3 separate regions of the Homo sapiens genome follow, and regions 2 and 3 are each reported to be linked to region 1. The links are microRNA targets in miRTarBase. Many come from high-throughput screens and were not tested one by one. Region 1 holds a microRNA gene; each other region holds the end of a gene's coding sequence.
What was found. The annotated mature microRNA hsa-miR-766-3p reads ACUCCAGCCCCACAGCCUCAGC and lies in region 1 at 2,026-2,047, shown strand. An mRNA with a match to its seed (bases 2 to 7 or 8) in the 3' UTR can be bound and repressed. Matches are read on the target gene's strand: a 7mer-m8 pairs with bases 2 to 8, a 7mer-A1 pairs with bases 2 to 7 and ends in A, and an 8mer does both.

Region 1 (3,163 bases):
CAGGAAAGCCTTGTAATAAAAGCCATTTTTAGAAAACTTTCCTGCTGCCACTGCCCTCTAAGTTATCATTACAACTTCAGCTGCCACCTCCTATGAATTGGCCAACAAATTAGCATAGCAGGGCAGCAAGTCATTGTCTCTCCTGACTTCCTGTCCATCAGTACACCCGAGATGTGTTTGTTATCACCATCACCATCTTAGACAAATCTGGCTCAAGGGTAAGGCTATCTGGAGCATGGTAGGTAGAGATAGGTCTTCTCTGACCGGCCGTGGGCATGGAAAAAATAAAAAAGATTAGCACTTGTCCTCTCGAGAAGTCAGGGCATTTTGATGGAAACTAGGCTCTGTTATGAAGAGACAGCCTAGTCTGCAGAAAAACGGGAGCCTCGCGAGAAGTGTCATCTGGGTGCCACGGGCACTGATGTCTGGAAGCGTCTAGTCACCTCAGGACATCAGTCCCCATAGAGACCTTCTGAACACTGATGCCCTAAGTCATCAAGCAGCTTGCAGGCTTGTGGTTTGCTTTGCTAAGAATAAATAGGGACTGAGAGTACTCAGCCATCTCAAGGTGTCACACAGAACCACATCTTGGTACCTCATGGATTAGGAGTGATAATCATCCTGGGCTCTGTTCTCAGCTCAGCTCTGGCCTCCTGCTAAGCCTAGGGTAGGCTCAACCTCAAGGCTGGAAACCCCCAAGCTAGGCAGCAGCAGTTGTCAAGCATGCTGTTATGGCTGTGAAGGGATTCTGGGTCCTTTATTACTCATAATTGTGTTTCACTTTGAGAAACAAAATTCGAGGCTGAACAACATAGTGAGACCTCATCTCTACTGAAATTTAAAAAAAATTAACTAGTGGCCGGGCGCGGTGGCTAACGCCTGTAATTCCAACACTTTCGGGGGCCAAGGCAGGTGGATCACCTCAGATCAAGAGTTCGAGACCAGCCTGACCAACATGGAGAAACCCCGTCTCTAGTAAAAAGACAAAATTAGCCAGGCATGGTGGCGCATGCCTGTAATCCCAGCTACTCAGGAGGCTGAGGCAGGAGAATCGCTTGAACCCAGGAGGCAGAGGTTGCAGTGAGCTGAGATCTCGCCTTTGCACTCCAGCCTGGGCAACCAGAGCAAAACTCCATCTCAAAAAAGAAAAAATTAACTGGTGCTGTGGCGCACACCTGTAGTCTCAGCTACTTGGTCGGTGGGTGGCCTAAAGTGGGAAGATTACTTGAGCCTGGGAAGTTGAGGCTGCGGTGAACCCTGATCGAGCCACTGCACTACTGCAGGCTGGGTGACAGAGCAACACCCTGTCTCACAAAAAAAAAAAAAGAGAGAGAGAAAGGAAAGGAAAGAAAAAGAAAGTAAATAAAGAGAGAAAGAGAGAAAGAAATAAAAAGGAAGGAAGGAAGGGAGGAGGGAGGGAGGGAATTCCAGTGGAAGGAAGGAAGGAAGGAATGGAGGAAGGGAGGGGAGGGGAGGAGAGGAGAGGAGCAGGGAATTCCAGTGGATTCAGGATTATCCCTATCATAAATCACTCACCACTTACTCCCTTGCATCCTACTGTGCTTTGTTTTTTTTTTGAGACAGGCTCTCACTCTGTCGCCCAGGCTGGAGTACAGTGATGCAATCAATTTCAGCTCACTGTAGCCTCCACCTCCTGGGTTCAACTAATCCTCCTGCCTCAGCCTCCCGAGTAGCTGGGACCACAGGCATGCACCACCATGCCCGGCTAATCCACTATGGGTTTTTTTTGAGTGGGAAAGAGAGGAGTGGCCTCACAGCTAGTGTGCCTGAATTGGCATGCCTGTGAGAGGAGCTTGCATGTGAGTGTTTTGTGTTACATGCGCTGTGATGGGAAAGAGGGTGCTATCAAATATACACAGAGGATTGCTTAGCCTGCCTGCCACCGAACAACTATGTCAAAAGTCCCCAGAGTCTTCACACAAGCCGTGGTGTATGAAGCTGCATCCTCAGGACCTGGGCTTGGGTGGTAGGAGGAATTGGTGCTGGTCTTTCATTTTGGATTTGACTCCAGCCCCACAGCCTCAGCCACCCCAGCCAATTGTCATAGGAGCTGGATTGGAAGAAGCGGAAGAAATCTGTTGCCTGAGTGGAGAAGACTGTACAATGTCCTGTCTCTCACCATGGGGGATTTTTGTGGCAGGAAATGAGAGTAATGAGGTCCCTGCCACCACCTTGAATTATGGGTGGCTCCAGAAAACCTTATTGTAGATTGAGGGGGAAGAGAAGGGAGAGCGAGGTCTTGTTGCATGCTATTTTCAACCCATGCTCTGATATCTCTCAAGGTTGTAGACTTTAATACTAAGAATTGCTATGTTATTTTAAATTTAATGATGTTCTTTGAATGGCTGAAAGCATGGCCAGGACCAGCAAAAAGGCCCAGTTACTTAATTGACTGAGCTCCATTAATTGTCCATTTGTGAGGTCTGGGGTTTGGTTCCCACAAAGGCAATTGACATTTGGGCCCAGTGAGAACACATGGCTGAACAGTAGGGTCATAGGAAGACCCACAGGCACAAGTCCATCCCTTCCTCTGAGACAGCAATGGTATTTCCATTGTTGCCATGTACTTTTACAGGAATCACCAGTGGTTGACTTGAGAGCAAATCAGCCAATGGTCTTGTTCAGTCACCAGCAGGGGCCTGAAATGGGGACTAACATAACTGGGAAACACTGTCCACCCTGGGAGGAAACCAAGCCCAATCAGAATATTATCATTAGATGAGGAATAAAGAGTTCTGACAGTGTGTATTTCACTGGGCTAAGCAGTCACCTAGCCTCCCAAGTATAATGGATGTGGTGAAATAAGAATAAAGTAACTCACGCCAATTGGATTATTAAGTACTTTACAATGTACAAGAAGAATTTAAGTTAGACACAAGTCAGTAAAGGTGGTGCTATGGTTTGATTGTGTCCCCTCCAAAATTCAGGTGTGGCCAGTATGATAGTATTAAGAGGTCGGGGCTGGGTGCAGTGGCTCACACGTGTAATCCCAGCACTTTGGGAGGCCAAGGTGGGCGAATCACAAGGTCAAGAGATCGAGACCATCCTGGCCAACATGGTGAAACCCCGTCTCTACTAAAAATACAAAAAATTACCAGGCGCAGTGGCTCATACCTGTAATCCCAGCTACTTGGGAGGCCGA
Region 2 (3,163 bases), not on the chromosome of region 1:
AGGCCAGTCTTCCAGCTATGGCCACCGTGGCTCTGGCTCCAGTCAGTCTTCTGGCTATGGCCGACATGGGGCTGGATCTGGCCAGTCTCTTAGCCACGGCCGACACGGGTCTGGTTCAGGGCAGTCTTCCAGCTACGGCCAACATGGGTCTGGCTCAGGACAGTCCTCTGGTTATAGTCAGCATGGAAGTGGCTCAGGGCAAGATGGGTATTCTTATTGCAAAGGAGGAAGTAACCATGATGGGGGAAGTTCTGGCTCATATTTTCTCAGTTTTCCTAGTAGCACTTCACCCTATGAATATGTCCAAGAGCAGAGGTGCTACTTTTATCAGTGAATAATAAACATAAATGCAATTTACTCAAGTAGCAATTTAAGAAATAGGAAAGTCATCTATGAATTCATCATGAAAGACAAGCAATCCATCATGAAATTCGTTCTAAAAGTGAATCAATGCATTTCTGTCTCTTTCTTTAGAGCCTAAAACTGTAGCATATATCTTGTTATGGGGTTCCTTCCAAAGACTGTTAGGCATTTGTGCTACTTTGTTAGAAAATACTGAGTGGAATAACTTGTTAGAATGAGGGTTAAACTTTGAGGAATAATGAAAAGCTTTTAAAGAGCTTTGGGTTTAGTTGGAGTTGTCTTTTTGAGAGCTCATCATTCATTTATAGATGGTGCCAAAGCTAACCTTACATTTCTTAGAAGCAAAATATTACAAATGCATTACCAGTCCTAGATACAAAGCTTTGTTTTACAGCAATTAGTGTACCCTAATTTTTAGTGTGCCCCAAGTTTGGTGTGTCCCAATTTTTGGTATTGTGGCAGAAGGTGAAGGCTCTGAAAGCAAAGATGCAGCAGCGGTAGTGTCTTTACTTATCAAAACCATCAAGTCCTTTTTCTTGGGTATATATTTAATCAGTAAGTTAATTAGTGGCATAAAAAAGTAGCATCAGGGTCTTTTCCCAAGCCAGTGAGCAAGAGCATTATTTCATAAAGAATAGGGATTTATCATTTCAGGAAAAAAAAAAACATTCAAATGTGGGCTTTAGCTTGTTTTCAGCAGAAAGATCTTGCTCCCTATTTCTAAGAGGCTGCTCAATATTGGGAAATATATTGAGGAGTTATTCCATGGAAATACAATGCTTTCCACCTACTACTGTAGTTCAATAACGTTTCCACCTGAAAAAATATCATCCATGCCCAGATGAAAAGGAAGAGTATCTGTCACTGCTACATAGTTCCTTAATTTGACTGTAACACATTTGTTTCAAGTCTTTGGATTCAAACAACCGGATTGTATTAAAATTGACAATAAATAAATGTTGATTAAATACTAAGACTTTTCTCATCTGTGCTTCATTTCACTTCTTACATACAGATGGTCATCCTAGAAACCAAACCAAACAGCGATTTCCCAATATTCTATTTTTCACAATGAAGAATAGATAAAGCATTCTTAAAACTCAATAAGACAAACTACTTCATTTTAAAATGATCAAAATTCCATCACACTGGTATTGGCAATGATTTTTTTGATATGACACCAAAATCACACACAATAATGTGGAGCTGTCAGCTCCATACATTTTATTGTCCCTGAAGCCCTTAGAGGGAGACAACATATGGAGGTAGAAGGCGATATTTGTCTTGGTTTAACAAAAACTTTTTAGTGTTAGTTTTAATTTTTAACAAAAAAAGTTTTTTAAAAAAATTTAAAACAGAAAAAAGCCTACAGAATAATGATGTAAAGAAAAAAATATTTGTGTTCAGCTATACAATGTGTTCGTGCTTTAAGCTAGGTGTTAATTAAGAGAGTCAAAAAGTTTAAAAATGTAAAAGTCTATAAACCTAAAAATTTACAGTAAGCTAAAGTTAATTTTTACTGGAGGAAGAAATTCTTTTATAAATTTAGTGTAATTCAAGTGTATAGTGTTTACACACTCTACAGTAGTATACAGTAATGTCCTAGGCCTTCCCATTCACTCACCACTCACTGACTGACACCTACAGCAACTTCTAGTCCTACATGCTCTATTCATGGTAAGTGCCCTATACAAGTGTACCTTTTTTATCTTTTATGCCATATTTTTACTGTACCTTCTTTATGTTTAGATACATTTAGATGCACACTTACCATTGTGTTAGTTGCCTACAGTACTCAGTACAGTAACATGCTGTATAGGTTTGTAGCCTAGGAGCAATAATCTATACCATATAGCCTAGTTGTTTATTGGCTATACCATCTATATTTGTGTAAGTACACTCTCTGATGTTTGCCTAAGGGTGCATTTTTCACAACATATCCCCCATTGTTAAGCAACACGATTGTGTACTTTACTATAGGGCCTAGCAATTCCACTCCCAAGCGAAATGACAACGTATGTCTACATTGAAGATTTTTACATGAATGTTTATAGCAGCTTTAATAATAGCCCCAAACTTGAAACAATCCAAATGTCCACGAACAGATGACTGGATAAACAAATTGTGGTATGGCTATACAATGGAATTCTATTTAGCAAGGAAAAAAAGAATAAACTACTGATACATGTAACACAGATGAATCTCAAAAACACGTTGATCAAAAGAAGCCATCCACAAAAGAGTACATATTTATGATTCCATCTATATGAAACTTACTAAAACAAACCTAATCTATAAAAATAGAAAGTAGATCAGTGGTTGACTAGGGCTGGGAGTAGAACTTGTGAACTGTCTGGAAGAGTCACAAAGGAACACTCTAGGGTGATGGAATAAATCTATATGTAGATTATAATGGTAGTTACATATATATATACTTTTGTCAAAACTTACATAATCGTACATATTATGTGGAAATTATATCTCAATAAAGTTGATTGTTTAAAGGCTTTCTGTGCAACTTGACACACGAATTTTTTTTGTTTTTTGTTTTTTGTTTTTTGTTTTGAGACAGTCTCACTCTGTTGCCCAGGCTGGAGTACAGTGGCACAATATCGGCTCACTGCAACCTCCATCTCGTGGGTGCAAGTGATTCCCCTGCCTCAGTCTCCTGGGATTACAGGCAGGCAGCACCACATCCAGCTAATGTTTGTATTTTTAGTAGGCAGGGTTTCACCATGTTGGCCAGGCTGGTCTCGAACTCCTGACCTCAGGTGATCTGCCCGCCTCGGCCTCCCAAAGT
Region 3 (3,163 bases), not on the chromosome of region 1:
AAACCCTGTCTCTACCAAAAATACAAAAATTAGCCAGGAGTGGTGGCGGGCACCTGTAATCCCAGCTACTCTGGAGGCTGAGGCAAGACAATCGCTTGAACCCGGGAAGCGGAGGTTGCAGCGATCTGAGATCATGCCACTGCACTTTAGCCTGGGTGACAGAGTAAGACTCTGTTTCTACAAAAAAAAAAAAAGACTTTTACGCAAAGGAACAAAGTACCTTCCAATCTGCAATAATAACTCTTGAATATAACAATTTATAAAGATAGGTGTTGTATATTGATGCTCATCTTGTGTGTCTAACATTTAAAAACCTAGTGAGTTCAAATACTAACTGTATACTGAAAATATTTTTACAATAAAATATGAGTTCACAGTTGTTATGCTAGGAATCTCAGAGCATATAGTAAAATTAGTTTCAGGTATAGAAATACTTAAATCTATTTTTTCTTTCTGCCCATTTCCACTTTAAGATTAATGGGAGAGAAATAAAATGATTAGTTTGAAAATAGATTATCTTGAGAATTTTTCTACCATAATAATAAATAAAGACAAAAAAGAAGTCATTTCTAAATAGTTACTTGAATACTGTCAGGTGGTTAGTAAACTCTTCTCACACAGAAGGAAAACATAAATCAAAACATTCCCAGTCTTATCTGTAAACCTTGTTAAGCAATAATAAATATTGCCCAATGCATGACAGGAGTCCACACTGTTTTCCACAGAACACCGAGATGATTACCGCAGTGCCTTCTCTCCTGGGAACAGTGCACCTCTACCATAGATGCAGTCCTCTTCACTAGGCTTCTTGAATAAGATCATTCAGAAACAATTCACTTTTGGGCCAGTTGGGGTGGCTCATGCCTGTAATCCCAGCACTTCGGGAGGCCGAGGCAGGCAGATCACCTGAGGTCAGGAGTTCAAGACAAGTTCAAGACCTGTCTCTACTAAAAAATACAAAAATGAGCTGGGCATGGTGGCACACGCCTGTAATCCCAGCTACTCAGGAGGCTGAGGCAGGAGAATCACTTGAGCCCGGGAGGCGCAGGTTGCAGTGAGCAGAGATCATGCCACTGCACTCCAGCCTGGGCAACAGAGCAAGACTCCCTCTCAGGAAAAAAATAAATAAATAAATAATTCACTTTTAACAAGCAAAAATATATTTCTTTTCTTTCTTTCTTTCTCTTTTTTTCATTTTTTTGAGATGACATCTCGCTCTTGTCACCCAGGCTGGAGTGCAATGGCACGATCTCAGCTCACTGCAACCTGTCTCCCAGGTTCAAGCGATTCTCTTGCCTCAACCTCCCGAGTAGCTGGGATTACAGGTGCTTGCCACCATGCCTTGCTAATTTTTGTGTTTTTAGTAGAGACGGGGTTTCATCATGTTGGCCAGGCTGGTCTCGAACTCCTGACCCTCAGGTGATCCACCCGCCTCAGCCTCCCAAAGTGCTGGGATTACAGGTGTGAGCCACCATGCCCGGCCCAAATATATTTCTTTTCAAAAGAATTGTAAACCTACTCAACTGACATAAAACATGTCTATAATAAGAAATGGCAATAATCATAATACTATATTCTTAGTTGACTGTCCTATGAAAGAAAAGTACCTAATACCTGTGTGAGTGTTTTTGGTAAAGACAGAGTTATCACCTTTTCTGCCTTAAGAATATATATATTTCTGGCTAAGCACAGTGGCTCATGCCTGTAATCCCAGCACTTTGGGAGGCCGAGGCAGGCGGATCACCTAAGGTCAGGAGTTGAAGACCAGCCTGACCAACACAGAGAAACCCTGTCTCTAATAAAAATACAAAAATTAGCCGGGCATGGTGGCATGCGCCTGTAATCCCAGCTACTTGGGAGGCTGAGACAGGAGAATCACTTGAACCCGGGAGGTGGAGGTTGCGGTGAGCCGAGGTCATGCCATTGCACTCCAGCCTGGGCAACAAGAGTGAAACTCCGTCTCAAAAAAAAAAAAAAAAAAAAAAAAAAAAAAAGAATATATACATTTCCTTTAGAGACAGGGTCTTGCTGTGTTGCCCAGGCTGGACTCATAATCCCGGGCTCAAGTGATCCTCCTGCCTCAGCCTCCCAAGTAGCTAGGACTACAGGTGCATGCCACTGCACCCAGCTAACAATATATTATTTATTCAAATCAACCTGCTACCAACAAGGTGTAGTGTTCCCGATTTCAACACTTCAAAAAATCAAAATTTACAATTCAATTAATAAAAATAACACCTCAGCAAAAATCATATTTTCACATTCTTTAAAAAAAATCCAGTCAATACCTTATTTTGAAGTCACATAACACTGACTCAAATCATGATAATCGGTTGACTTTCTACTTTAACACAGTAGCTTCATTCCTGGCATCTATTTAAAGGCTCGGTACAAAAGACTGAGGCAAAGAGCAGGGTAAAAAATCTAAAACTTTCACATCAAATCTTAAGATGTCAACAAACTACAAAGCAAATCAACAGATACTGACACATCAGATGAAAGAAAACCATAACTGCCAACTTTTCAGTTGAATCTTGTAGGTTTTGATCCGCCACTGATCTCAAGTTAGAATAAAGTCCATTACTATCAGAAACAAAAACTGTTTACATAAGATCCTATAGCCTCCATGACTTTAAACGGAGGGGACTGGAATCTGCTTGGCTGAAGTGCTGTCATATTCCTGCACTAAGTCATTAGTGGTGTGATAATGCATGGCAATATATGAATTGGCAAATCCAAAAGAGTTTACTGGCTGTAAGTTACATGGGCTGCTCTCCTCCTGGGAAGGGCTGCTGTTATAGATGCTGTAGTAAGGTTCAATCCGAGTGTTGATGGGGGTCGAGCTGCTCTGACCACAGTGTTGATGTCCAGCAGAGATCTTGGGACTCACCATACTTTCTTTTGAATGACTTGGGCCACAAGCCTGGTCCACAAATTTCTTCTGTGGCTTTGGAGATAACATGTAGGCAGAGTTTGTTTCATGATGGGAGGATTTGTTTCTGTTGACTTCGAGGTTCCCTTTTCCCATGGCTCGAAGTCGAGTCTTTTGTTTGCAGCAGAAAAAACCCAGGCCTATGTATTGGAGGCACCAGAGCACTTTCCTTCTCAGCCCTGCACTGTTCCGAGAATATATAAAAGGGTTTAATCCTGACTTGAAAAATAT

Region 2: the mRNA of HRNR is a reported target of hsa-miR-766-3p. The part of its 3' UTR that is shown has no 7-base or 8-base seed match.
Region 3: miRTarBase lists GPR75 as a target of hsa-miR-766-3p. The part of its 3' UTR that is shown has no 7-base or 8-base seed match.

The regions. Positions count from the first base shown.
Region 1 is chrX:119,645,647-119,648,809 of GRCh38, reverse strand. It overlaps MIR766 (microRNA 766), which reads left to right and starts at 1,962; the gene lies at 1,962-2,072. All of the region lies in intron 5 of SEPTIN6 (septin 6), which reads left to right. RefSeq lists an enhancer at 729-908.
Region 2 is chr1:152,210,247-152,213,409 of GRCh38, reverse strand. HRNR (hornerin) reads left to right here. Exons shown (of 3, transcript NM_001009931.3): 3 at 1-1,334. The coding sequence ends at 334. All of the region lies in intron 1 of CCDST (cervical cancer associated DHX9 suppressive transcript), which reads right to left. Among named protein-coding and RNA genes, the nearest start is that of HRNR, 12 kb to the left of the region's middle.
Region 3 is chr2:53,850,502-53,853,664 of GRCh38, forward strand. It overlaps GPR75 (G protein-coupled receptor 75), which reads right to left. Exons shown (of 2, transcript NM_006794.4): 2 at 2,411-3,163. The coding sequence ends at 2,633. The region is part of intron 1 of GPR75-ASB3 (GPR75-ASB3 readthrough); the gene reads right to left. Among named protein-coding and RNA genes, the nearest start is that of MIR3682, 2.9 kb to the left of the region's middle.